Linked DNA regions of Homo sapiens: region 1 is linked to region 2. The links come from fine-mapping of genetic effects on gene expression. A gene starts in region 2. The other region holds a variant in brackets. All regions are shown on one strand. Distances are between the middles of the regions. Region 1 overlaps NCOR1 (nuclear receptor corepressor 1). Region 2 holds the start of TTC19 (tetratricopeptide repeat domain 19).

What was found. PIP is the estimated chance that this variant, and not a neighbour inherited with it, causes the effect.
Region 1: its variant is the best candidate, but not a certain one, in a credible set for the expression of TTC19 in whole blood (TOPMed, PIP 0.64).

The regions. Positions count from the first base shown.
Region 1 is chr17:16,048,603-16,051,102 of GRCh38, reverse strand. It overlaps NCOR1 (nuclear receptor corepressor 1), which reads left to right. Exons shown (of 46, transcript NM_006311.4): 41 at 2,115-2,258. Among named protein-coding and RNA genes, the nearest start is that of TTC19, 50 kb to the right of the region's middle. The variant G/C (reference allele first, on the strand shown) is at 1,356.
Region 2 is chr17:15,998,282-16,001,298 of GRCh38, reverse strand. TTC19 (tetratricopeptide repeat domain 19) reads right to left here and starts at 1,475. Exons shown (of 10, transcript NM_017775.4): 1 at 1,267-1,475; 2 at 1,054-1,181. The coding sequence starts at 1,450. ZSWIM7 (zinc finger SWIM-type containing 7) reads left to right here and starts at 1,595. Exons shown (of 5, transcript NM_001042697.2): 1 at 1,595-1,780. The coding sequence starts at 1,705. RefSeq lists silencers at 1,122-1,511, 1,862-2,021 and an enhancer at 1,632-1,721.

The sequences.
Region 1 (2,500 bases), 50 kb before region 2:
CTTTGGGAGACCAAGGCGAGAGGATCGCTTGAGGCCAGCGGTTCAAGACCAGCCTGGGCAATGTAGTGAGACCCCATCTCCACAAAAAAACTAAAAAATAAAATCGCCCAGGCATGGTGGCATGCACCTGTAGTCCCAGCTACTTGGGAGCCTGAGGTGGGAGGATCACGTGAGCGCAGAAGTTGAGGCTGCAGTAAGCAGTGATTGTACTACTGCACTCTAGCCTGGGTGACAGAGGGAGACCCTGTCTCAAAAATAAAAATAAAAATAAAAATAAAATGGGCAACAACAGAGAAGGCAAATCAAATTCTTCATCTTTCATGGAAGAGAGTTAACAGATACTGTTTCAAGTTTTATAAATAAAAAAAACATGTTTAAGATTATTTACAGAGTTTTGGAGGTAAACAGCAAAACAACTTAAAAAAAAAGTGGCTATCTTGAACAACTGGATGGGCTGATTGAGAAAGGCCATAACAAATCATATTATAATTTTGCTTTAGTCTAATAGTCATAATTCCAGATGTTGAAAGTCACAGGTGGCTTTCATATGCATAATCGCTATGTCAAAAAATTTTAGCAGGGCCGGGTGTGGTGGCTCACGCCTGTAATCCCAGCACTTCAGGAGGCTGAGGCAGGTGGATCACTTGAGGTCAGGAGTTTGAGACCATTCTGGCCAACATGGTGAATCCCCGTCTCTAATAAAACTACAAAAATCAGCCAAGTGTGGTGGTGGCTACCTGTAATCCCAGCTATTCAGGAGGCTGAGGCACTAGAATCCTTTCAACCTGGGAGGTGGAGGTTATAGTGAGCCAAGATCGTGCTACTGCACTCCAGCCTGGGTGACAGAGCAAGACTCTGTCTTAAAAAAAAAAAAAAATTGAGGGTGTGGTGGGGCGAGGTGCTTGTAATTCCCATTACTTTTGGAGGCTGAGGTGGGAGGATTGCTTGAGCCCAGGAGTTTGAGGTCAGCAACATAGTGAGACCCCTGTCTCTACAAAAAATTAAAAATGGGCCACCAGACATAATAAAACATATAATAAAAATATTAGCTGGGCATGGTGACGCATGCCTGTAATCCCAGTTACTCGGGAGATGTAAGTGAGAGGACCACTTGAGCCCAAGAGTTTGAGGCTGCAGTGAGCTATGATTGCACTCCTGTACTCCTGCCTGGGCAACGAGCGGGACCCTGTCTCTAAAAAATAAAAATTTTAATAATAAGATAAATGGGCCAGGTGCGGTAGCTCAGGCCTGTAATCCTAGCACTTTTGGAGGCCCAGGCAGGTGGATCACCTGAGGTCAGGAGGCCTAGCCAACATGGTGAAACCCCGTCTCTACTAAAAATACAAAAATTAGCC[G/C]GGGTATGGTGGCGCATGCCTATAATTCCAATTCCAGCTGCTCGGGAGGCTGAGGCAGGAGAATTGCTTGAACCTGGGAGGCAGAGGTTGCAGTGAGCTGATCACACCACTGCACTCCAGGCTGGGTGACAAAGCCAGACTCTGTCTCAAAAAAAAAAAAAATGATAAATGGGTGGGAGCTAAACAGTGTGTCTATCTTATATTATTCTTACCAAATGGTATCCAGAGAAAAAATATAAAATTGCAGAGAACCCCTCTGCCATAATATAGTGTAACTAGAACCTATGTTGACTCACCTGATAAAACTTCTTGGGTGTCAGTTTAGTACTGAAGTCCTTTATCTTTAACTTGACGATGAAAGAACTGGTCAGTCGACTCAAAATAGGTAGGAAAACCCTTGAGGTTTCACCTGGACTAAGGAGCCAAGGGTGAGATGGTGTCTGATGTTGAAGGACATGCGGAGCCTCAAGGACGCAGCTTCTGCCACTGCTGCTGCCCGGGCAGCACTGTCTGATGACGTGACTCCTGGATCCACGGGGCGCGCATGGGTCAAGTGGCAGTAACACAGTGGTTTTTTTTGTTGTTGTTTGTTTGTTTTAACTATGTATATAGTGAATACCTGAGGCAACTTTTTTTCTGATAGAAATTGGCAGCTTTTGCTCCTTCTCCTGAATGAAGTCATGAGTTAACAAGTTTCTGTTTAGGTAAGTCCCAGGTTAGCCTTTGAAACACAATCTAATATTTCACATATTACAATAGTAGGCCTGGAAAATCCCCAGAGAGGAGTCACGTCTCTTCGGAGCCCTACGAGCCCATCTCCCCACCCCAGGTTCCGGTTGTGCATGAGAAACAGGACAGCTTGCTGCTCTTGTCTCAGAGGGGCGCAGAGCCTGCAGAGCAGAGGTAAGTGTGCTTCCTAGTGACAGCAACCATTCATGGCGTGGGTGCTCATGCTTTAACATTTCCTTCAGTTGTTGCCGTTTTTCTCAGAACTTTGGGCTTTTATGTCTGGATGGCATTCTTAGAGGATCATTTGTCTCTTTTCCTACTCATCTAATGCTAGTGTATTTTAGCAAAAAGAAAATATTTATAATATCATATTTAAATAGGTTAGAAAATATTTGTTCATTATTCTTGAAATTAAA
Region 2 (3,017 bases):
CAAATGGGTGGGCAAGGTATATGCTGGTTTAGATCATGTGGGGTGTTGCAAGCCAAGGCAAGGAGTTTGTATTTTATCATAAATGCAGTGGGTAGCCATTCAGAGCTTTCTGACAAGGAGATGACATAATCCAATTTACTCTTTTTTTTTTTGGTCGCTTTGGTTTCTGCATGGAGAATAGATTGCAAGAGGCCAGGAGGCCAGGAAAGACTACTGGAGCATAGTTGGTGGCAATGATGGTTTGCACTAGGGTGACAGCAAGGGAGATAGACAAAAGGGGAAAGATTTGAGAAATATTTTGCATTTGTTGGCAACAGGACTTGTTGCTGGACTGTAAGTGTATTGGAAGGCAATGGTAAGGTACCACAAGTTTTAAGAATGACTATGAGGTTTTTAGGCTGAAAAACTGATGGTAGTAAAGAGATGGCGAAAGCGTATGTTGAGGAGGCATTAAAGATCGTTTAGTTTTGGGCATGTTAAATCTGAGAGGTAGGTATGGTCCTAAAGTGCAAATGGCATGTCAGTAGCACACTACAGAATGGAAATACAAATTTGGACGTTGTTGGCATCGAGTAGGTATTTAGCTCAATGGAAGAGATGAGATAACTTGGGAAAAGAGGAGGAAAAAAAAATAGAAAAGGATGTGGAGAAAAGGAAGAATTCAGGAGGAGAACCGAACCGCATAACCAACACTAAGTTGCCATTTTCAGGCCGCTATATACGTGCGAAATTATGTCATTTCAGATAGGCTGGTTAATTGATAAAACCACTACAAAACGTTCCCGATATTTCGTTTGCATAAAGCGTGATGCCTAGGGCGCCATCTCCATTTGCACTTGACACTGCAGAGGTTTTACTGCAGGCCTTAGAGTCGGAAAAGCCTGGATGGATTCCAATCCCCTCTCGGATGACCCACCTCATTCTCGGCAATTTTACCCGCGGAGCCTCCATCCACTCTTCGGCGAGGCGGAGAGAGTAATGCGCAGCAACGCCAAGACCCCGCTCACAAAGGCTACCGCGCTCGGCCGGGCGCAGGGCCCGGAGCCGCCTCACCTTGGCTCGCTTCAGCAGCTGGATGATCTCTGCCTCGGCCTCGTCCGCCCCGTCCTCGGCAGCGGCCCCGTCGGCTCCCTGCTGCTCCTCCTCCTCTGCCGCAGCGGGCCTCGAGAACCAGGCGAGCGCTGCGGGAAGGGGCTCTGAGGTCATCGGGCCCGGCCCGCGCCCCTGTCCCCGCCCGGCCGGCCCCGCCCGGCCCGCGCCCCTCACCTGCCAGCAGCGGCAGCAGGCCTGGGCCCCGGCCGTGCGGCGCGACTCGGGATGGCGGCACCTGCACCTCGGGCCCCGGACCTCCTGCCAGCCCCGGGAGCAGGCGCGCGGAGCAGCCCCGGCACCGCCGCCCCGCGGCCCGCAGGAAGCCTCGGCCCAGGCTCCAGCTCAGGAGCCGGAACATGCTCCCGCCGCGTCCTCTGCGCACTGCAGGCCAGACGCGCTCCTGGCCCCCGACCACGCGCCGAGCGCCCTCCGGATTGGCCGGGCCCTGACGACTGAGCAGGACATCCCTGCGTCCGCACGCGCGATGACGCGCCCCGACGTCACTCCGTCTCGCCCTGCCCCGGCGGGGGGTCAGGATCCTCCACAGGTAGGCGCAGTCAGCTGGAGCGTCGCGGCGGTCCGCCGGTCGTGGAGGGCGTGTCCTGCGGCGCGATGGCCGTAGTGTTGCCGGCGGTTGTGGAGGAGCTCCTGAGCGAGATGGCGGCGGCGGTGCAGGAGAGCGCGCGAAGTACGGGACCGAGGTCGTGTGTGGCTGCGCCATGGGCGCGGGCGGGGCATCCGGGCACCGCCGGGCCGGGAGGCAGGAGGCGGGGTGTCCGGGCCTGGCCCTGCCTTTTTTCCATGTGGTTCTCTAAACCTCTTGTTCGTAAAAAGACAAAAAAACAAAACAACAAAAAAGCGAAATTGGAACAAGTAAAAGTCAAATCGATTCAGCAAATATTTACGGTACAGCGCAGTTGCAGGAGCCCCTCCGTCGGAGCGAGTAGGCCAGTGGGGACCGAAGTGCTGAGAGCTGGCCGGGTCGCTGGGAGGGGTCCCCGCCCGGGGGTGGAAGGGACGGGAGCCTACAGTGAGTGATAGAAACGTGGAGTTCTTGATTATTTTACACGAAATTTTGAATTATTAAACTTCTTTTTCTCAAATTCTGATGTTAACATTAAAGTTAATGCTTCCATACACTTTAAAAAGTAGGCCCAGCGCAGTGGCTCACTCCCGTAATCCCAGCACTTTGGGAGGCCGAGGCAGTTGGATTACCTAAGGTCAGGAGTTCGAGACCAGCCTGGCCAACATGGTGAAACTTCGTCTCTACTAAAAATACAAAAAATTAGCTGGGCGTGGTGGCGGGCGCCTGTAATTCCAGCTACTCAGGAGGCTGAGGCAGGAGAATCGCTTGAACCCGGGAGGCGGAGGTTGCCGTGAGCCGAGATCGCGCCATTGCACTCCAGCCTGGGCAACAAGAGCGAAATTCCATCTCAAAAAAAAAAAAAAAAGCATTTTAAGAGCCACAAAACCTAAATGCATATGCAATCGTTGGAGTAAATCTGGGTATTGTGAAAGCACCATTTTTTTTCTGACCAGCAGAGGGTACTCTTTGGCTATGCTCACCAAAATCACTTGAGAAGGGTTGATCTCAAGATGTGTTCAGAGTATGCTAGGATAAGATCAAATCAAATTTGATATACTCAAAATGCATTGACTAATGAACTACTCTTAGGATGTAAAAATGGCCACCTTATAAATAACAGCCATATCAGGCCCCCAAACTGCCATCGCTTATTCAACTTGGATGGCTTTTGTTTTAAAAGTACTGTACTGCATTTTGAAAGGGTTTATCTTGAGTTACTGTTTTTAAGGAACTGAGAAAAATAAGCCAACTTTGTTTCCTCATCTCAGTCAAAATTAAGGAGACTTAAGTATATGTGCTTGAAAGATTAGTGCAGCCAAGTATTCAAACATACTTGTTT